Homo sapiens: one gene and its partners. The protein of the gene in region 4 interacts with the protein of the main gene of each other region in a pairwise test. Each region holds a gene or a part of one and is shown on either strand. Other genes may lie near its edges. The genes, in order: SLC19A3, SLC17A8, SPAG4 and CYP4F2.

Region 1 (3,766 bases), on a different chromosome or scaffold from region 4:
TAACTGGACTGACCCTATTGCTAGGCTTAAATACTTATTTGATCTTACCAAAGAAGTCAACACATGGGACCTTTGTGTCACATGAACCATTTTCTTTCCTCTTCTATTAAGTGTATTTCTGTTTAAGTTACAGTTCTCTAAGAGAATTACAATGTTTGTCCCATTTCTAAGGGCTTCTCTTCAACTCTAATAACAGCATTATTCACGTTATGATTTGATAGTATTATTATTTAATTTTTTTATGATTATTTTCCATTTTGTGCTCTGAGTTTTGCTGTTGAAAGTCTCCCTCAAGAATAGCTTCAGATCCTCTTGTGTATTTGCAGAATACACAAGGTCATTTCCCAGTGGCCTGGGAGAGGCAGTGAGCCTTCTCTCCACCACCATAGACAGGTGTTAATGCATCTATGGGCCAGGTGCAGTGGCTCACTCCTGTAATCCGAGCAATTTGGGAGGCCAAGGTGGGAGTTTTGCTTGAGGCCAGAGGTTCAAGACCAGCCTGGGCAACACAGTGACACCTGACTCTACTAAAAAATTAAAAAATTAGCTGGGCAGCGTGGTGTGTGCCTGTAGTCTCAGCTACTTGGGAGGCCATGGTGGGAGGATGGGTTGAGCACAGGAGTCAGAGGCTACAGTGAGCTATGATTGCACCATTGCACTCCAGCCTGGGCAACAGAGTAAGACTCTCATCCCCCTCCTCCCAAAAAAGAGCACCTGTGTGGTGTCTGTCTAAAATAGGAAAACTTAAAGGAGGTTTCTAGAAGTATTAGAAATAAGAAAACACTGATGGGGGGAGTGGAATAAAACACCTGATTTTGTTTTGTTTTGGTTTTTGAGACAGTCTCGCTCTCTCACCCAGGCTGGAATGCAATGGCGTGATCTTGGCTCACTGCAAACTTCACCTCCTGAGTTCAAGCCATTCTCCTACCTCAGCCTCCCAAGTAGCTGGGACTATGGGTGCACACCACCACGCCTGGCTAATTTTTGTATTTTTAGTGGAGATGGGGTTTCACAATGTTGGCCAGGCTGGTCTCAAACTCCTGACTTCAGGTGATCTGTCTGCCTCGGCCTCCCAAAGAGCTGAGATTACAGGCGTGAGCCACCATGCCTGGCCAAAACACCTGATTTTTAAATGGTAGCAATTGTGCTAAATAAAATGTGTAAAAATTTTAAAGAGTTGTTAACATTTTTTGATGAATTCTGCTGAAAATTATCTGAACATACCTGTTTTTCGAAACTTCAAGAAACTTCAATAAGGGATGCATTGAGCAGTCTGACAGTGAGAATAAAGAATGCTGAGTCAAGATTTATATTAAGGCTGGAAGCTGTGGCTCACACCTGTAATCCCAGCATTTTGGGAGGCTGAAGTGAGAGGTTAATTTGAGGGTAGGGGTATGAGACCATCTTGGCCAATATAGCAAGACCCTGTGTCTAAAACAAACAAAAAAATTTTTAATTGGATTTTGATATGGTTTGGATCTGTGTCCCCACCAAATCTCACGTTGAAGTGTAATCCCCAATGTTAGAGGTGGGGCCGGCTGGGAGGCGACTGGATCATGGGTGTGAAGCCTTCATGAATGGTTTGGCACCGTCCCCTCAGTGCTGGTCTCATGACAGTGAGTTATCGTGAGATCTGGTAGTTTAAAAGTGTGTAGCACCTCCCCACTCTCTCTTTCTCCTGCTTTGGCCACGTGAAGATGCCTGCTCCCACTTTGCCTTCTGCCATGAGTAAAAATTCCCCGAGGACTCCCTAGAAGCAGATGTTGCCACGCTTCCTATATAGCCTGTGAGCTAATTAAACCCCTTTTCTTACAAACTATCTAGTCTCAGGTGTTTCTTTATAGCAATGTGATAATGGACTAATATGTTTCTCAAGTATACTCCTCTCCAAATCCCGAAATTCTTCACTGGACTAAGATCCAGCCCAAGAATCAATGCACTCACTTAGTGGAGAAAACTAATAACATTCCTACTTACATTAAAGGCAAGGAAGGAATGGCCGCTATTCTTTTTCTTCTTCTTCTTTTTTTTTTTTTTTTTTTTTTTTTGATAGAATCTTGCTCTGTCACCCAGGCTGGAGTGCAATGACGCAATGTCAGCTCACTGCAACCTCCGCCTCCCGGGTTCAAGCAATTCTCCTGCCTCAGCCTCCCGAGTAGCTGGGATTACAGGCGTGCACCACCATGCCCGGCTGATTTTTGTATATTTAGTAGAGACGGGGTTTCACCATGTTGGTCAGGCTGGTTTCAAACTCCTGGTCTCAGGTGATCCGCCCGTCTCGGTCTCCCAAAGTGTTGGGATTACAGGCTTCAGCCACCTCACACCCAGTCTATTATCCTTCTTTTTTAACTTATTATTCTGGAGGCATTAGGCATCACAATTAGACAAACAAGAAAAATCAGAGGTCAGAAATTGGAAAGGAGGCCAGGTGCAGTGGCTCACGCCTGTAATCCCAACACTTTGGGAGGCTGAGGCGGTCAGATCACATGAGGCCAGGAATTGGAGGCAAGCCTGGGCAACATGATGAAACCCTGTATGTACTAAAAACAACAAAATTAGCCGGGTGTGGTCCATGCCTGTAATCCCAGCCACTCGGTGGCTGAAGCATAAGAGTCACTTAAACCCAGGAGGCAGAGGTTGCAGTGAGTTGAGATTGTGCCACTGCACTCCAGCCTGAGCGACAGAGTGAGACCCAAAGTGGATTAAAAAATGCATTATGATTCCTTCACATATTCACCTATAACAAAATTAACTGCTAAAAAATGAGGAAGATCTTTAGTGACACAGAACTCTAAGAGCTCTACTATCAAGTGGAAAAAAGTCAAGCACCAAAATAATAATGAACGCAGCAACTCAGCATTTGTATAAAAAGGACAAAAATATCTGTATTGGCTTATATATGCGTATAACTTTTCTAAAAAGACAAATGAGGCCTGGCACGGTGGCTCATGCCTGTAATCCTGGCACTTTGGGAGGCTGAGGTAGGTGGATTGCTTGAGTTCAGGAGTTCAAAACCAGCCTAGGCAACATGGCAAAACCCTGTCTCTACAAAAAATACAAAAATTAGCTGGGCATGGTGGCTTGCACCTGGACTCCCAGCTACTTGAGGGGATGAGAAGGGAGGATCGCTTGAGCCCAGGAGGTGGAGGTTGCAGTGAGCTGAGATCATGCCACTGCACTCCAGCCCTGATGACAGAGTGAGACCCTGTCTTGAACAAACAAACCAACAATCAAACAAATAAATAAACAACTGAAACTCATACCAATGATTGCCTACTGTGGAGTAATGGGAAATGGGAGGGAGACATCACATTCTCATGGTGTTTGATGCTTGCACCAAATGAATAACCCACCAGTAAATTAAAATACGACTTTTACAAAAAAGCATTTAACCTCTTGGGAAATAAATTCGCATTGAAGAATAAGGAGCTGGAGATTTGCCATGCAACCATTATGATAGTTTTATATTTTTGGCAATGTGAATGGATTACTAAATGTGCATTTATAATTAAAAGGAACAAACAACAGAAGAAAAAAATAAGTGGGCCTGGTTGGGCACCTTGGCTTGTTCCTGGAATCCCACCACTTTGGGAGGCTGAGGAGGGAGGATCGCTTGAGCCCAGGAGTTTAAGACCACCCTGGGCAACATAGTGAGACTCCATCTCAAAAAAATTAATAATAATAAGTAGACCTGACATTGAAAAATTAAATTAAAATTTTTTATTTGGTATCTCAGTAATGAAAAAAATTTTTTAAATAATGACCC
Region 2 (7,058 bases), on a different chromosome or scaffold from region 4:
ATTAAAGTTGACCTAAAAAAATAAGTAGAACATTGTCTTTCTTTAAATACCAGTTAACAAGAGGAACGTCAACAAAATACTTACCCCTAGCTGAACATACTGCCATTTGGAAATATTGTAAAGATCCTTTTGTAGTTCATAAATGTGATAATTGGGTGTTCACGTGCATGTATGAGATGTCTGAGTCCCTCAAACCTTGTTACAACATTGGTACATTACCCATTTTACCTGAAAAAAATATATATGGTAAAAATTGAAAAATTTAGAAACGGAAGAAAATGAGACCATATAACCCAGCCTTTTCTTTTTTAACTGCAGGCATGTTTGGGATTATTTGGTACATGTTTTGGCTGTTGCAGGCCTATGAGTGCCCAGCAGCTCATCCAACAATATCCAATGAGGAGAAGACCTATATAGAGACAAGCATAGGAGAGGGGGCCAACGTGGTTAGTCTAAGTGTAAGTATAAAAAGTCAGATGAAGACTTACCTTTTTTCATAAGTGATTGTGTTGCCTTCTTACAGAAAAAATGTCAATATCTTTACTAAAAATATCATGGTATTTTTACTCCCTAGAAATTTAGTACCCCATGGAAAAGATTTTTCACATCTTTGCCGGTTTATGCAATCATTGTGGCAAATTTTTGCAGAAGCTGGACCTTTTATTTGCTCCTCATAAGTCAGCCTGCTTATTTTGAAGAGGTCTTTGGATTTGCAATAAGTAAGGTAAACACACAGATGCTCCAAATATTTTTGAACTTTAAATCTCTTGATTCTACAGAGAATAACTTTGTATGATAAAATAATTAAATTGCTGATCATAATTCATAACAGTTCTGTGACACCTAATAGCCTGGCTGTCAGACAAGTTATACATTCTATGCATAGTATGCATAGCTGTTTAATTTCTTCTTAGCAAGGATCAGAGCCGTATTAAGCTGCTTTAAAGATTTATGTTGTACCCAATCTTAGAGTGTTTTTGAAGCTAGCTCAAGGACGGCATATTAGGCAAGGATAAAAAGATTTGAGGGTGTGGGTTTTCTTTTTTTCCTGTAAGCTACTCAGTGAGTAGCAGTAAGAACCTTACCATTCATTTTGCAGAACACCCCTTCTCCATAATGGTGGCTATAGCAGTAACAATCATTGCTTGCAATGGGTTAGAAAGAACCTCTTTCTGCCAGGCGTGGTGGCTCACGCCTATAATCCCAGCATTTTGGGAAGCCAAGGCTGGCGGATCACCTGAGGTTAGGACCAGCCTGACCAACATGGCAAAACCCTGCCTCTACTAAAAATACAAAAATTAGCTGGGCGTAGTGATGCACACCTGTGATCCTAGTTACTCAGGAGGCTGAGACAGGAGAATCACTTGAACCCAGGAGGCAGAGGTTGCAGTGAGGCGAGATTGCACCACTGCACTCCAGCCTGGGCAACAGAGCAAGACTCTGTCTAAAAAAAAAAAAGAAGAAGAAAAAATAAACAGAAAAAAAAGAAAGAACCTCTTTCAATGCTCCCAGACATTATCATCAAGCCAATTGTGTTTTAGGGAGGAAGGGTGTGGATAGTGAATCATCAACCATCATCATAAGATAAACCTCTTTCCTACAAGGGAAAGAACAGCAGCCGAGCAAACACAAATGTCTGCCTAGCTACAGATACTGTCAGAAGTGACCATGGAAGAGCTGGCATAATCATGAAATGGTGGCTGTCATCAGTCATCAGTGCTCACTGGGTGCCAAGTGCTTTATCTCCCATGTGCCATGCCCTCTGTGATGAATAAAAGTCATCGCTGCCCTCAAGGAGCTTCCAATCTGGTAGAGGACACAGATAGGTCTAAAATCATTCGCTCATTCATCATTTATTTATTATGAAATTCAGGCCTACCCAGCTCCCACATAATTAGATGCTTAAATTTGGTGGTGGTAGGTAGGGGGGCTGTGGAGTGGAGGTGGGCAAGGGAATTAGGGAGGCCCCTCTCTCAGAAATAATGACAAACTGCTTACTGTTTCTTTCCCTTCCAGGTGGGTCTCTTGTCAGCAGTCCCACACATGGTTATGACAATCGTTGTACCTATTGGAGGACAATTGGCTGATTATTTAAGAAGCAGACAAATTTTAACCACAACTGCTGTCAGAAAAATCATGAACTGTGGAGGTACTGTGGATTTCATAGATGGCTTAGGCAGCTTTTGTAGAATTAGGGTAAACTGAACTGCAGAGCATATATTAAGAAGTGACATTTAGTCATTGGAGTGGATCTTAAAGACCTCTAAGTCTGTCCCTCAGCAGACACTTGAGTGTTGTCCATCACAGTGCTGCCAAGAGGTCATCCAGCTGGGACCTTTCCATACATCCTTCCACATTTATTGTTTGCTTATGTAGTTTATTCCCTTCTCTGCTTACCTTTCTACCTATCCATATGTTTTGGTAAGAAACAGAAGAAAAGTAGTCTTTCCTCCTAGCCTATGCTTGTGCATGGGATATATGCACACACACACACACACACACACACACACACCATTCTCTTTCTTGATTTTATTTAGCTCCTGCTTTATGTTTTAATTTTGTAAAGACAAAGTGAATGTTAGGTGATTTCCCAAAAGAGGTAGGCGAAAGTAATTGTGAACCCCTACAATGTTCATGAGTGCTTTTTAAAAAACTCATCTTTTTTGTTTAGCTTTTAAAATTAACATTTATTGAATGCTTTCTGTGCCAGACACTAAGCTAAATCTTCTACATACATTATTTTATTTAATCTTCATAACCACCATGTGGAGCAGGTACTATTACTATATGCAATTTGCAATGAGGAAACAGAGGTAAAATAAAGGGACTTGCTCAAGTAGCAGATCCCTGCAAGGTATCAGGTAGGCCGGAGCCTACCGCCAAAGCTCTTAGTTTGCGGCTACCCCTCTGGAGGACTAGTCAGGATGAGCGAGCAGGAGGTAGAGGATAGCGCCACCTATGGGCAAGAGCTCACAACTGTGATATTAAGTTGAAAGGGACGGATTGCGTATGCTCTGACAGATAGCTAGGTCTGGCACATTTAGAAGTGAAGACTATACCGAGGGACACAGGAGCAGGCATGATCTGATCCCATAGCATTTCGGGAAGAAAGCCTAAGAGTCTGTTGGCACCTGTTCTCCCAGTTCCTTGACTGCTGGTCCCAGGCAGGGATGTGTGGGCCTGACCTTAGCTTGAACTTTCTTGTAGAGGACTGAGGGTTAGCGGATATAGGCCTGCTATCTGGTGGGCAGGAGGTGAAGCTCTGGGACATTGCATTCAAGTCCTCTCCAAGAGAGCTGTAGCAGCTAGAATAATGCCCATGTCCTAATCCTCAGAAGCTGTGAATATGTTTCCTTACATGTCAAAAGGGACTTTGCAGGTGGGATTAAATTGAGGTTCTTGAGATGGGAGTTTATCCTGCATTATCTAGGTGGGCCCAATATAATCACAATAATCCTTATAAAAGGAGGAAGGAGGGTCAGAGTCAGAAAAGAAGATGTGATGGTGGAGGCAAGAGTCAGAGTGATGCAGCCACAAACCAAGGAATGCAAGCAGACCCTAGAAGCTGGAGAAGACAAGAAGAGATTCCGCCATAGCACCTCTAGAAGGAATGCAACTCTGTAGGCTGCTGCCTTGACTTTAGCCCTGTACCATTTTGGATTTTTGGCCTCCAGAACTGTACAATAGTGCAGAGAGTATTTTAGAGGTGACATCTAATCATTGGAATAGATCTTAAAGACCCCTAAGTCTATCCCTCAGCAGATACTTGATATTTGTGTTGTTTTGAGCCACTGAGTTTGTGGTAATTTATTACAGCAGCAAATGAAAACTAACACAGCGGTAGGCAGGGTGCAGTGGCTCACTCCTGCAATCCTAGCACTTTGGGAGGTTGAGGCGGGCAGACCACTTGAGCTCAGGAGTTCGAAATCAGTCAGGGCAATAGTGAGAACTTTTCTCTATTAAAAAATAAAACATTTATAAAATGAAAACTAATACAGTAGCCAAAGCCTCACCCTTCTAATGATAAAATTCTGCTCCAGCTGAACAGCCCTCACCCAAGCCCTGAACATATCTTTCTGTCTCTGACTTTGCCCACTCCCTTTCTCTTTCCCTGTGAGTTCTCACCTTCACCTCTCAATCCAGTCCTCTCTATACATCCAGCTCAATTCTTCTCCTCTTATGTTTCCTTAAAGCCATGCCATTCTCCAGTGATCCCTCTGAATATGTCCACATGGCTAGATTGGCAACTCATCATGTGGTGCCTTATTGCAGCTCTCTCAGGAAAAGATTTTAGGCAGAGGGAATAGTATGTGCAATGACCCTGGGGCAGGCAGGAATGTGGCCTGTGTGAGAATAGAAGGAAGGGGAGTCAGAATGGCTGAGTGACGGGAGACGGGATCGGGATGTTTTTCTAGGGTCAGATCATGGCAGGCCTTGTCGGCGTATGCAGAGCTTGGGTTTTATTTGAAGTACATTGAGATGCAGATGATTTAAAGCACGGAATGGATATGATCTCATTTTTTTTTTTTTTTGAGACAGAGTCTCGCTCTGTTACCCAGGCTGGAGTGCAGTGGTGCAATCTCAGCTCACTGCAACCTCCGCCTCTTGGGTTCAAGTGATTCTCCTGCCTCAGCTTCCTGAGTAGCTGGGATTACAGGCATGGGCCACCATGCCTGGCTAATCTTTTGTATTTTTGTAGAGACAGGGTTTCACTATATTGGCCAGGCTGGTCTCAAACTCCTGACCTCAAGTAATCCGCCCGCCTCGGCCTTCCAAAGTGCTGGGATTACAGGCATGAGCCACCTCGCCTGGCCTTGCTTATTTATTTTTAATCTGGGGAATTATGCAGGGTACAAGAGTAAAAGAAGGGAGACCAGGTAGGAGGTGATTTCAGTTGTCCTGTCTAGAGAAGATGGTGGCTTAGACAAATGAGGTGGCAATGGAGATGGAGAGAGGGGGGTCAATTTCTAAATTCTCAGAGCCAACAGTTCTCATCTTTAAATTACATAATAATATTTACTTCAGAGGATAGTTATGAGAGTTAAATGATACAACGTATGAATGCACCTAGTGCGGTGTTCAACCTATAAAAAGTTCTCAACAAATGTTAATGCTGCTTTTTTTCTCCTATGTTCAAGACACAAAAAACACAGAAGTTTTTCAAAGAGTTCTTTAACAAATATCTGTGATTGTATTTCCTTTGGACAAAAAAATGTACTTCTAAACTGGCAACTTTAAATAAGTTTCTGGATTTTAAACACTACTTGCACAACCTCTTCTAAACCCAGATGCATTGGATATTCTTGAGCATATTTTGTGGGAATGTCTTGTTCCTATTTAATTCTGCCCCAGTACCTCTGCTGTTTCTCCATAATTGGTGGTGATTATGTTATGTTGTGGTGATGAGAACTTTCAAAGATGTTTAATTGCTAACAAAGTGCCTGTTGAGAGGAAATAGTTTTTTTTCTGCAGAAACTAGAAGGCATATGTGGAATCTTTCTGCCTCATCTCCCATCTTTAAAAAATACCTCTTCACATGGCTTTTCATGTTCATATATATATATATTTTTTTTGTTTGTTTGTTTTGTTTTGTTTTGTTTTTGAGATGGAGTCTCGCTCTGTCACCCAGGCTGGAGTGCAGTGGCGTGATCTCAGCTCACTGCAAGTTCCGCCTCCCAGGTTCACACCATTCTCCTGCCTCAGCCTCCCGAGTAGCTGGGACTACAGGCACCCGCCACCACACCCGGCTAATTTTTTGTATTTTTTAGTAGAGGCGGGGTTTCACCGTGTTAGCCAGGGTAGTCTCGATCTCCTGACCTTGTGATCCACCCACCTCGGCCTCCCAAAGTGCTGGGATTACAGGCATGAGCCACCGTGCCCGGCCATTCTTTTATATTTTGACATAGTAGGACCAGTGAGTTATATATAGAAAATAAAATTTTTAAAAAGACCATAATGGTCCCACTTTTTCTGCTTAAATACAGAGATGCTAGAGCAGAGATAACTACATGAAAACAAAGTTTTGTGCCATCAGTGAAGAATGCAGGTTGATTTGGAAATGATGAAGCACTGGTATGATCTTCCAGAGAATTTTGGTTGGCTTTTTGGTTTCCTACTAAGAAATATAGAAGGCATTTCTCATCTGAGAAGGATCACACATATCTTGGAGCCTGTCATCTTTTATTTCCATAGATTTTAATATGCCATTAAAATCATTTAAAGCAAAACAGATCACTTAAGACATGATGTTCAATTCATTCTGAATCAGGGTCTACGTCTATGATGCTTAAAGACAGATGCCAAATTCTTGTCCTGCCCCCTCTATAGAACATGCAAAGTGTAACTGAGGTCAAAAATTCTATTCTGGCTGAATCAGTTGCAAGTGTGAACTTCAGATTATTTTAATATGAAATAAAATATTTCTTAGGCCTTTAAGTCCTAGTTTTGTTTTTCTTGTCAACTCTAAATAGGTTCAATTTTAAGGATCTCCTGATTACCCCTAAAGTTGAAATTTTATCCTTAAGCTCCTGAAACATGCAGCCCTGTCTCTAGTATTTTAACTGTCAGTAGAAACCATTTAGGCTCTTAAATGCTTTTTTTTCCACTGGCAATCTGCTATTTGGCCAAAATTTTTTTTCTTACAGATGAACTGATGTATCATTTGTAAGTTTTATTCTTTATACAATGTCATCATTCTAATTCTTTGGGGGAATTGACTTTCTGCATGCTTCTGTTCAGAGTGTAAAAATAAAAGAAGTTTCAGCCAGATGCCTTGTTATTTAGGATAGGCACTTCTAAGACACATATAGTTAGTATATGAAACACTAGCTATTTTTCCCTATGTGTAGTCTTAAATGTTGAAACAAAATTAAGAACAAGTAGCAATGATATAAAGCCTATAGTTTTAAAAGTAAGACTTCCCTAATTACATTTCATCCTCTTTAGAAGCCATTTAAAACAATTATTAGTTCTTGCCCTTCTTTATAGTAGTGTTGAAGAAATAGGTTCAAAAAGGTAAATATTAATAACTTAACCATCATTTACGGTAAGTACTTCAG
Region 3 (7,676 bases), on a different chromosome or scaffold from region 4:
CCCAGGCAGTGGGAAGAAATGCTGAACGTGTTCTGGGCCATGTAATGTGTACAGTTTGGCCTGAACACAAGGAATGTACTGGGCGGCGGCAGCAGCAGCAGCAGATAAGATTAGACAGTCAGAGGAGCTGGGTCTTGCTGTGTGACCTTGAGCCAGTCATGGTCCCTTCTTGTGCTTCAGCTTTTCCATCTCAGTACTGGGTTGGAAAGCCCTGTTCTGCCTATTTCTCCATTGTTGTTGTTTTGAGATGGAGTCTCACTCTGTCACCCAGGTTGGAGTGCAGTGGTGTGATCTTGGCTCACTGCAACCTCCACCTCCCGGGTTCAAGCGATTATCCTGCCTCAGCCTCCTGAGTAGCTGGGATTAATAGATGTGCACCACCATACCTGGCTAATGTTTTTATTTTTAGTAGAGATGGGGTTTCACCATGTTGGCCAGGCTGGTCTTGAACTCCTGACCTCAGCTGATCAGCCCTTCTAGGCCTCCCAAAGTGCTGGGATTACAGAAGTGAGCCACTGCACCTGGCCAGTTGTTATGTATTCAAATGAGTTTGAGGGTCTAAACCACATCAGACAAGAGGGACAGGCTGTTCTGTTTTTTAAAAAGGCCCAGATTAGACCTGAAACCCTCAGATGCTGGAGGAAGGCTTCACCTCCCCACAGTCTTTTTTTTTTTTTTAAGACAGTGTCAGCCAGGCACAGTGGCTCATGCCTGTAATCCCAGCACTTTGGGAGGCTGAGGAAGGCGGGTCAAGAGGTCAGGAGATCGAGACCATCCTGGCTAACATGGTGAAACCCCATCTCTACTGAAAATACAAAAAATTAGCTGGGCTTGGTGGTGGGCACCTGTAGTCCTAGCTACTCGGGAGGCTGAGGCAGGAGAATGGTGTGAACCTGGGAGGCGGAGCTTGCAGTGAGCCAACATCGTGCCACTGCACTCCAGCCTGGGTGACAGAGCAAGACTCTGTCTCAAAAAAAAAAAAAAAAGACTGTCTTACTCTGTTGCCCAGGCTGGAGTACAGTGGTGCGATCTCAGCTCACTGCAACTTCCGCTTCCTAGGTTCAACCAATTCCCTAACTCACCCTCCCCAGTAGTTGGGATGACAGGTGTGCACCACCACGCCTGGCTAATTTTTGTATTTTTAGTACAGAGACGGGGTTTCACCATGTTGGTCAGGCTGGTCTATGAACTCCTGATCTTGTGAGCCCGCCTCAGCCTCCCAAAGTGCTAGGATTACAGGCGTGAGCCACTGTGCCCGGCTCACCTCTATTAAAAGGACCCAAAGGAGTTAACGGACAGAAAACGTGGCAGAGGCAGAGATGGGGTGGTATGGACCAGAATTTGTAGTTTGCAGTGATTTCGCCTTCCTCTCCCTTCTTCCGTGTGGGCCCTGTGGCACCTAATGAAGCAAGGTATTGAGATCATCCCTCTGGAGCCTGGCATGGGCATCTCCCCTCTGGGCTAGAACATAGCTTAACAGATTGTCCGTGTGCCTCAACCCCTCAAAAACTGCCACTTCCAGTTCCTAACATTCTTGTTTTGTTTTGAGACGAAGTCTTGCTCTGTCACCCAGGCTGGAGTGCAGTGGTGCGATCCCAGCTCACTATGACCTCCGCCTCCCAGGTTCAAGCGATTCTTCTGCCTCAGCCTCCCAAGTAGTTGGAACTACAGGCACACGCCACCACACCCAGCTAATTTTTGTATTTTTAGTAGACATGGAGTTTCACCATATTGGCCAGGTTGGTCTTGAACTCTTGACCTCAAGTGATCCACTGCCTGGGTCTCACACAGTGCTGGGAGTACAGGCGTGAGCCGTCATGCCCGGCCCCAGCTCCTCACATTCTAAGGAAGTTGTGAGATGGCAGTTAAGAGGACTGCACTCGAGGGCAGGATTTGGGAATTCTAATGTGATGCAGTGTTATTCCTCTACCTGGACCTGTTTGCCTAGCTGTGCAACTTGTGCATGACATACTGCATTGTCTTTCAAAATGTGGTTGTTGTTTTTCTTTTTTCTTTTTTTTTTTTTTGAGACAGAGTCTCACTCTGTGGCTCAGGCTGGAGTGCAGTGGCACAATCTTGGCTCACCGCAACCTCTGCCTTCTGGGATCAAGTGATTCTCCCGCCTCAGCCTCCCAAGTAGCTGGGACTACAGGCACGGGCCACCACGCCCGGCTAATTTTTGTATTTTTAGTAGAGATGGGGTTTCACCATGTTGGCCAGGCTGGTCTCAAACTCCTCACATCAGGTGATTCGCCCACCTCAACCTCTCAAAGTGCTGGGATTGCAGGCGTGAGCCACCAAGCCTGGCCCCAAAATGTGGTCTTTAACCAGGATCACAAATGTGGTTGTTAAAAATGCACACTCCAGCCGGGCACAGTGGCTCATACCTGTAATCCCAGCACTTTGGGAGGCCGAGGTGGGCGAATCACCTGAGGTCCCGAGTTCGAGACCACCCTAGCCAACATAGTGCAATCCCGTCTCTACTAAAAATACAAAAAAAAAAAAAGTTAGCCAGGTGTGGTGGCACATGCCTGTAATCCCAGCTATTTTGGAGGCTGAGGCGGGATAATTGCTTGAACCCAGGAGGCAGAGGTTGCAGTGAGCCGAGATCGTACCATTGTATTCCAGCCTGGCCACAGAGCAAGACTCTGCCTAAAAAATAAACAAAAACAAAACAAAAGCACATTCCTGGGCCAACTCAGAAATTCTGCAGTATCTGCAGTAGAATCACAAGGTGTGCCTGGGAAGCTGAATTTCTATAAGCTGCACTGATATTCTGTTACATAGCAAGAGTTTGGGGACCTCTAGTCTTCTGGCTGTGACCATCTGATTCCTCATTCTTTCCTCCATGGCTCAGGTGTGCAGCCTGAGTGTGGGTATGACGATTGGTGGGTGCTGAATTCTCAACCCACAGACCCCTGGGAAAAATGGGTCTGGAGGAGGGACCCACAGATCCTGAATGAGCTCTCTGACCTGATGTCTAGGATGAGAGGAGGGGGCTGAAGGGCTTGCAGAGCAAAGGGGACTAAGTATTTAGAAGTGCCCTGAGTGATGCCCTGCTCCTTCTTAACATTCATTATTTGCAAATATTTGAGCACCTACTACATGCTAGGCTTATCTAGGTGCTGGAGGATACAGTAGTGAATGAAAATCTGTGCCCTGATTAAGTTTATGTTCTAGTGGGCATGGCAGGCAATAAGGAAATAAATAAATGGGCCAGGCATGGTGGCTCACATCTGTAATCCCAGCACTTTGGGAGGCAGAAGTGGGTGGATCACTCAAGCTCAGGAGTTGAAGACCAGCCTGGGCAACATAGCGAGACCCCATCTCTACAAAAAATACAAAAATTAGCTGGGTGTGGTGGCGCAAGCCTGTAGTCCCAGCTACTCGGGAGGCTGAGGCGGGAGGATTGCTTGAGGCCGGGAGATGGAGGTTGCAGTGAGCTGAGATCATGCCACTGCACTCCAGCCTGGGCAACAGAGCGAGACTCCATCTCAAAGAAAGAGAGAAATGAAATATATAGCATGTTAGTGACACGTGCTGAGGAGAAAAACAAAACAGGGAAGGGGGATAGAAACTGGTATTTGCTAAGTGCAATTTTAGATGGGGTTTTCTAGGAAGTGCTGTGACGTCATCACTTGCTTTAAAAGAGGCCAGGCGCAGTAGCTGACTCCTGTAATCCCAGCACTTTGGGAGCCCCAGGCAGGCGGATAACCTGAGGTCAGGAGTTCACGACCAGCCTGGCCAACATGGTAAAACCCCGTCTCTACAAAAATACAAAAATTAGCCAGGCATGATGGCGGGTGTCTGTAATCCCAACTACTCGGGAGGCTGAGGCAGGAGAATCGCTTGAACCCGGGAGGCGGAGGTTGCACTGAGCCGAGATTGCACTACTGCCCTCCAGCCTGGGCGACACAGCAGGACTCTGTCTCAAAAAATAAAAATAAAATAAAAATAAAAATGCTGGGCGCAGTGGCTCATGCCTGTAATCCCAGCACTTTAGGAGGCCGGGGCGGGTGGATCACCTGAGATCGGGAGTTCAAGACCAGCCTGACTAACATGGAGAAACCCCGTCTCTACTAAAAATACAAAATTAGCCAGGCATGGTGGTGCATGTCTGTAATCCCAGCCACTCAGGAGGCTGAGGCGGGAGAATCGCTTGAACCCGGGAGGCGGAGGTTGCAGTGGACCAAGATCGCGCCATTGCACTCCAGCCTGGGCAACAGAATGAGACTCCATCTCAAAAAAAAAAAAAAAAGAAAGAAAGAAAGAAAGAAAGAAAGAAAGAAAGAAAGAAAGAAAGAAAGAAAGAAAGAAAGAAAAAAACTGTTATAGACTGAGTGCCATTTTAGATGGGGTTTTCTGGGAAGTGCTGTGACATCATCGCTTGCTGTAAAAGAGGCCGGGCGCGGTGGCTGACGCCTGTACTCCCAGCGCTTTGGGAGGCCGAGGCGGGAGGATCGCTTGAGCCTAGGAGTTCGAAGTTACAATGAGCTATGATCAGGCCACTGCACTCCAGCCTGGGCAATGAGAAAGACCCTGTCTCTTAAACAACAACAAAGTCAGAAGGAGAGGCTGCCATGGCTACGGCTCCAGGTGACGTCACGGCCAGCTCCGTGACGCGCGGCCAGGGCAGCCCGCGGAGACCGAGGCTCCTCTGTGACGTCAGCAGCCGGCCGGGACACAGCGGGAGGGCAGGTGCGGCCGCGGGGCCTGCCGACTTCACGCAGGGTCCGTGGGGTCCCCGCGGCGCGCAGCGGCTGAAGGAGGCCCCAGGGCCTTGGCGACCGCAGCGGCGGCTTTAGCGTCAGTGACTAGGCAGCAGGGGGTCAGGATGCGGCGAAGCTCCCGCCCGGGCTCGGCCTCGTCCTCGCGCAAGCACACGCCCAACTTTTTCAGCGAGAACAGCTCAATGAGCATCACCTCGGAGGACAGCAAAGGGCTCCGGTCAGCGGAGCCCGGGCCTGGGGAGCCCGAGGGCAGAAGAGCCCGGGGCCCGAGCTGCGGTGAGCCCGCCTTGAGCGCGGGAGTGCCCGGAGGAACCACATGGGCAGGAAGCTCTCAGCAGAAGCCAGCGCCTCGGAGCCACAACTGGCAGACAGCCTGTGGCGCGGCAACCGTGAGGGGCGGGGCCTCGGGTGCGGGCGGGGTCGACCCCGGGTGAGCCAGTGGAGGGGGCGGGGCCTAAAGGGCGGTGCTGGGCGGGGACGGGGCTAAGATGATATCTGGGCACCTCCTACAAGGTGGGTCCTGTAGGGTAAAGGGATGGTGCTAAATGAGATCCCTTAAGGGGCGGAGCCTCGGTGTCCTGGACGGTTATGGGAAGGGGCGGGGAAAATCTTGTGGTTGGGTGCCACTGAGGGGGCGCGGCCTCAATGTTAGCGTGAGTGGCTCCCAGGACAATTGGGTTCCACCAAGATCTAAGGCTGGGGGCGGGTCATCCGTTTGGGGGAGGGACCAACTCTTTTTTTTTTTTTTTTGCAACGGAGTTTCGCTCCTGTTGCCCATGCCATGCAATGGCATGATCTCGGCTCACCGCAACCTCCGCCTCCCGGGTTCAAACGATTCTCCCGCCTCAGCCTCCCGAGTAGCTGGGATTACAGGCGTGCGCCACCATGCCCGGCCAATTTTTGTGTTTTTAGTAGAGACGGGGTTTCTCCGTGTTAATCAGGCTGGCCTCGAACTCCCGACCTCAGGTGATCCGCCCGCCTCGGCCTCCCAAATCGCTGGGATTACAGGCGTGAGCCACCGCGCCCGGCCAGGAGACCAACTCTTGACGGAGCCTCCCTGAGGGGCGGGGCTTCAGAGGGCGGAGCTGGAGCCGGGATAGGGCTGCGGTGGGACCAAAGCCTGTGAGAGACTTCCCAGCTGTCTGGCTTGTGGACTGAGCAATCTGCGGCCCGGTCTCGAGGGGAAAATAGGTCTGTGGTCCGCAAGGCCCCAGTGGAGCCCTTGGGTTCCCGCAGAACCGACTGGGTCTCCAGTAGTCTCTGAGGAGCCGCTCGACCTTCTCCCGACCCTGGATCTGAGGCAGGAGATGCCTCCCCCGCGGGTGTTCAAGAGCTTTCTGAGTACGGGCCAGGCCAGCTGCGATCCCCTCTGACCCTCGGGTTCCCCTCTCCGAACTCCAGTTCTCTCTGAGCCCCCGGCCCCCGTTTGAGTATCGAGCCCCTCTCCGAGCCTCAACTCATTCCTAGCCCCCATCCAATTATCCTAGCCGACCCTCTCTTCCTGAGCCCCAGGCCCACCCCCGGCCCCTCCCAAGCCCCTTCTGAACCCGGACACCACGCAGGCTGAGCCCCGCCTCTCCCTGCCGTGGGCCCCTCTCTGACCCTCTGTCCTGGCCTCAGGCCTGCTCTTCCAGGGGCTGAGCGTGTTGTTATCCCTGGCAGGAGACGTGCTGGTCAGCATGTACAGGTCAGAGGAAGGGACGCTGGCGCCCCAGGAACAGCTCTTTGGAGGGGGTGGGGAGCAGGGCCGGAACCTTGCTGGCGCTTGAGCCGATTCAGATCTGATTGAGTCATGTTGGCAAGAGCTGGGTCTAGGACCCTGGGGTGGGGACTGGAGGGTTGAGCAGGTCGGGGCCTCAGCCTCCCTCCGGTTCCCCAGGGAGGTCTGTTCCATCCGCTTCCTGTTCACGGCTGTGTCGCTGCTGAGCCTCTTTCTGTCAGGTGAGGGGCAGTGAATTCCCTGGAGCCCCTGCCCTGGGTGCTTTGGAGGCAAACCCAGCACATTTTCTCCTACATCCTCGGTCCTGCAGCTCCTGGCATTCCCCTGCAGAACCCCCTAATTCCCCCTCAGACTCCCACGGTCCTCCCCAGGCTTAACCCCCTCAAGCCTCTTTCCACTGTCCCCCTATGCCGGGGAAACCCATTCTCTTCCTTTTCCTTCTGAGACCCCTCCCTCTCTTTCTCCAGCATTCTGGCTGGGGCTTCTGTACCTGGTCTCTCCTTTGGAGAATGTGAGTTGGGGAGACTGTCTTGGGGTAGGGGGTTGGCAGGTTGTGAACCCGGAGATTGTGGGGGTCCCCTGGACTGTCGGTCTGCTGGGGTGGGGGTAGTGCCAGAGGCTACAATCCTTAAGAAAGGGCTGGATATAAACAGACTTATGAGGGATTGTGCTTGAGGGTCTCTTGGGGGCTCTGATACTGGGAGGTCAAGGAGGAGTCGAGGAAAGGGGACACAGTCTTCAAAAAGGAAGCCCTGGCCGTTTCCAGGCTGAGGTAGGAGCAAGGACGACGGGAGCTGAGCGGCTCTGTGTTTTGTCCCTTCATCCAACAGGAACCTAAGGAGATGCTGACTCTAAGGTGAAAGAGGGCACCTAGGGTGGGAAATTGGGGGGCTCAAAGTTGCTTCTTTGAGAACCTTGAAGGCGTGGGGGCCTTTGGGAGGTGTCCAGGGGGACAGGGAGCCAACCCCACGGCGCCCACCTCCCACCTCCAGTGAGTACCACGAGCGCGTGCGCTCCCAGGGGCAGCAGCTGCAGCAGCTCCAGGCCGAGCTGGATAAACTCCACAAGGAGGTGTCCACTGTTCGGGCAGCCAACAGCGAGGTGAGCCCCGGCCCACCTTGGAAACCCCTGATGGATCCCTGCTCCCAGGGTCCTGAGACTTAAGCTCCGCCCAGAGCCCTGCGGGATTTCTCCCGGTGCCCACGAAGTCCATCCCAAAGCAACCA
Region 4 (3,610 bases):
AAACATCTTCCCATCAATGTGTATGTGGCTTGTTTCCAACCTTTTGCTAAAAGTGGACATGAGGCAGTCAGCATGTGTGCACAGTGACCATTCCTTGCATGTATAAGCATCTCTGCAGGACAAATTCCCTGAAGTGCAATTGCTGAATCAAAGAACATTTGCACTGTACAATTTTAATTATCATTGCAAATCCTTTCCTATTAGCTGAGTTTGATGGCACAAGTTTTCCCATAACTTTACCAATACTACTAATGTATTATTAAATTTTAAAATCTATGCCAATCTTCATATTTCTTCTTTTGATGGACATTGTTTTAAATAAGAGTGAGGTTGAACATCTCTTTCACGTGTTGATGTTTGTTTCTTTTTATGGAAGTGGTTCCTTTATTTTTTTGCTCTTTTTCTTTGGATTCTTTAAAAATATTTACTTTTAAGAATGTGTATTAAAATTGATTTTTTTTTTTTGAGATGCAGTCTCTATCGCCCAGGTTGGAGTGCAGTGGTGTGATCTCAGCTCACTGCAACCTCCACCTCCCAGGTTCAAGCCATTCTCTTGCCTCAGCCTCCCGAGTAGCTGGGACTACAGGTGCCCTCCACCATACCCCGCTAAGTTTTTGTATTTTTAGTAGAGACGGGGTTTCACTGTGTTAGCTAGGATGGTCTCGATCTCCTCATGTTGTGATCCACCTGCCTTAGCCTCCCAAAGTGCTGGGATTACAGGCATGAGCCACCACGCCCAGCCAAAATTGATTTTTTTTTTTCTGTCTTGGGTTGCAAAATATTGCCTTTCAACTTTTGGAGGGTACTTTTCATTACTATCCTTTATCTGCAAAAACTACCATCTTGAGCATATTCAACTTCTGTGAAGTTAAATTGATCCACTTTTTTCTTTTACAACTGTAAAATCCATCAGTTTCCCAGGATTTTGGTTTGAGCAGGGGCTGTCTTTATCAAATGTGAAGTTTTCACTTATTCTCATGTCTTTTTCTGAGCTCTCCCTCATGTTCCATGGGTCTGTTTTCTCATTTTTGCCACAGTGCCACACTATTTTTATTCTTGCGACTTTGTAACAATTCTTGTTAAAAGTTTATTTTATTGCGGGGAGAAAAGGTCTCACTTGCAAACAGAGAGAAGCTGGAGAATTGTGTCTTTGCTCCCTTGATAAGGATTGGGGCTGGGGTGTTTCCTTAGGGACGACCTGGCCCATTTGCCCTTCCTGACCATGTGCATGAAGGAGAGCCTGCGGCTGCATCCCCCAGTCCCGGTCATCTCCCGCCATGTCACCCAGGACATTGTGCTCCCAGACGGCCGGGTCATCCCCAAAGGTGCTCACAGCCTCACGGGGAGGAGTCTCCTGGGTAGGAAGAGGGGCCCCTCAGTGAAGGAGGCCTTCTCCTGACTGCTCCCTTCTCTCCCACAGGCATTATCTGCCTCATCAGTGTTTTCGGAACCCATCACAACCCAGCTGTGTGGCCGGACCCTGAGGTGCGGGGCCCCTCTCTCTGTTTTTGTCCATTCCAAGGCTCCTAGAGGAGGGGGCAGGGTTTTGATCAGGAGTATCCAACATCACCTCCCTCAAAGACACACACAACTGTCTGTCTCTCCAAGGCTGGCGGACTGGGAGACCCCACCCAACAACCCTTCTTGGTCTCACCTCCAGGTCTACGACCCCTTTCGCTTTGACCCAGAGAACATCAAGGAGAGGTCACCTCTGGCTTTTATTCCCTTCTCGGCAGGGCCCAGGTAAGGGCGGCCTGTGTCTGAGGTGGGAACGGGTTGATGGGTGCAGGGGTCTGGGCATGACAGTGGGGAAAAGGGGGACATTGTAGATGGTCCAAGTTCCAGCTCTCTTTCCCTCACCTCCTCTGGAGTTTATAGGAAAAGGTCCATAGAGTACGGTTGGGTTGGTCCTAGAAGGGTCTGTGGTGTGCTCAGAGCCCCCTCCTACCCCACCTTGGTCTAGGCTGGGGGTTGGAGCTCGGCTAGGCTTGCAGGATATGCAAGCCCGCATGGGGATCCAGGCACGGATACCCCCTTCTCTATTCCTCAAACTGCTCTAGGTGGGGTTGGGTGTCCCAGGCCAGGTTACCGGCTTGATGGGGCCAGGATGGGGCTCCTGGGTGCAGTCAGAGTTCCCACCTCCCTCCCCTAGGAACTGCATCGGGCAGACGTTCGCGATGGCGGAGATGAAGGTGGTCCTGGCGCTCACGCTGCTGCGCTTCCGCGTCCTGCCTGACCACACCGAGCCCCGCAGGAAGCCGGAGCTGGTCCTGCGCGCAGAGGGCGGACTTTGGCTGCGGGTGGAGCCCCTGAGCTGAGTTCTGCAGAGACCCACTCTGACCCCACTAAAATGACCCCTGATTCATCAAAAGTGAAGCCTAGAATTACCCTAAGACCCTGTTCCACAGTCCTGTATTCCATCCTAGATATCTACTCAAAATAATTGAGACAAGTGTTCAAACAGAAAGACGCTTGTGCGTGAATGTTCATGGCGGCCCTATTCACAGTAGCCAAACGATGAAAACAACCCCAAGCTATATATTACCAGATGAAAGGATAAACAAAATGTGGTCCATCCATACAATGGAGTATTACACAGCCATAAAAAGGAATGAAGCAGTGATCCCTACTACACTGTGGATGAACCTTGAATGCATGATACTGAATGAAAGACGTCAGATGCAAAAGGTCACATAGTGTACTGTCCTTTTATACGAAATTTCCAGAACAGGCCAATCTGAAGAGATGCATAGCGGATTGGTGGCTTTCAGCAGCTGTGGGGAGGTGGGACTGAGGAGCGACTGCTAATCAGTATGGGGTTTCCTCCCGGGATGGTGAAAATGTTCCGGACCTAGATAGTGACGAAGGTAGCACGACACTGTGAGTGCACTAAATGCTATTGAATTGGACACTTTGAAATGGTGAATTTCGTGGTATGTGAATTCTACCTCAATCAAAAAAATTTGCTATTTTATCTCACATACATTTTTTTTCTGTCCAGGTTGTTCATATAATAATATGCTGTGAGCATCTTTCCATGACATTAAATCATCTTAGGAAACATTATTTTGTGGTCCTCAAAATGTGTGTGTTAAGTGTTCAAATCAGTCTTAATTTAAAAAAAGACATCATATTAGAAAATAAAAGTGTTTTGTCTCACTTTGTAAGAATTAGCTTCATATACATTGACTATTAGTAACAAATTGAGTTATTCTTCATCAAGTAACTTTTGGGGTAGAGATCTCATTTTCACAGCAATAGATGCACAAATATTCATGTAAGATACAGGTGTGGTTAGACACCTTTCATAGAACAGTTATGATCTGGAAATTCCACAGACACTGAATATTTTGGTCGTATTAACAGAAGTAGATCACTGAGAAGGGAGAAGGTGACTTTTCAGCTCCCCCAGGTAAATGCTGATTTCATCCTCACATCGATCTTACAGATTGTAGATGAACTCACTTGTTCAAGGTCACTCAGTGAAGGGTGGAGTCAGGGGTGAATCTGAGCAGTTGGCATCAGAGGTCATGCCTTATCGTATCAAGGACATGATTTTCAAAGCGAGTCTCAGCCCTAGGCACATCAGATTACCTGGGAACCCCTACAG

Evidence for each region.
Region 1: the proteins of CYP4F2 (region 4) and SLC19A3 interact in binary tests that used the Homo sapiens proteins (3 or more experiments, as listed by UniProt).
Region 2: the proteins of CYP4F2 (region 4) and SLC17A8 interact in binary tests that used the Homo sapiens proteins (3 or more experiments, as listed by UniProt).
Region 3: the proteins of CYP4F2 (region 4) and SPAG4 interact in binary tests that used the Homo sapiens proteins (3 or more experiments, as listed by UniProt).

The regions. Positions count from the first base shown.
Region 1 is NC_000002.12:227,683,263-227,687,028, reverse strand, and holds the end of SLC19A3 (thiamine transporter 2), read left to right. Parts: 3' UTR 1-3,266; downstream 3,267-3,766. UniProt on the Homo sapiens protein: Mediates high affinity thiamine uptake, probably via a proton anti-port mechanism. Has no folate transport activity. Mediates H(+)-dependent pyridoxine transport.
Region 2 is NC_000012.12:100,402,022-100,409,079, forward strand, and holds part of SLC17A8 (vesicular glutamate transporter 3), read left to right. Parts: intron 1-123; exon of another isoform or gene 124-229; intron 230-318; coding exon 319-458; intron 459-574; coding exon 575-724; intron 725-2,016; coding exon 2,017-2,149; intron 2,150-7,058. UniProt on the Homo sapiens protein: Multifunctional transporter that transports L-glutamate as well as multiple ions such as chloride, sodium and phosphate.
Region 3 is NC_000020.11:35,611,170-35,618,845, forward strand, and holds the start of SPAG4 (sperm-associated antigen 4 protein), read left to right. Parts: upstream 1-4,659; 5' UTR 4,660-4,834; coding exon 4,835-5,138; intron 5,139-5,167; exon of another isoform or gene 5,168-5,218; coding exon of another isoform or gene 5,219-5,243; intron 5,244-5,966; coding exon 5,967-6,071; intron 6,072-6,350; coding exon 6,351-6,417; intron 6,418-6,609; coding exon 6,610-6,671; intron 6,672-6,917; coding exon 6,918-6,961; intron 6,962-7,280; coding exon 7,281-7,306; intron 7,307-7,442; coding exon 7,443-7,551; intron 7,552-7,676. UniProt on the Homo sapiens protein: Involved in spermatogenesis. Required for sperm head formation but not required to establish and maintain general polarity of the sperm head. Required for anchoring and organization of the manchette.
Region 4 is NC_000019.10:15,877,479-15,881,088, reverse strand, and holds the end of CYP4F2 (cytochrome P450 4F2 precursor), read left to right. Parts: intron 1-1,191; coding exon 1,192-1,325; intron 1,326-1,420; coding exon 1,421-1,485; intron 1,486-1,660; coding exon 1,661-1,743; intron 1,744-2,152; coding exon 2,153-2,318; 3' UTR 2,319-3,066; downstream 3,067-3,610. UniProt on the Homo sapiens protein: A cytochrome P450 monooxygenase involved in the metabolism of various endogenous substrates, including fatty acids, eicosanoids and vitamins.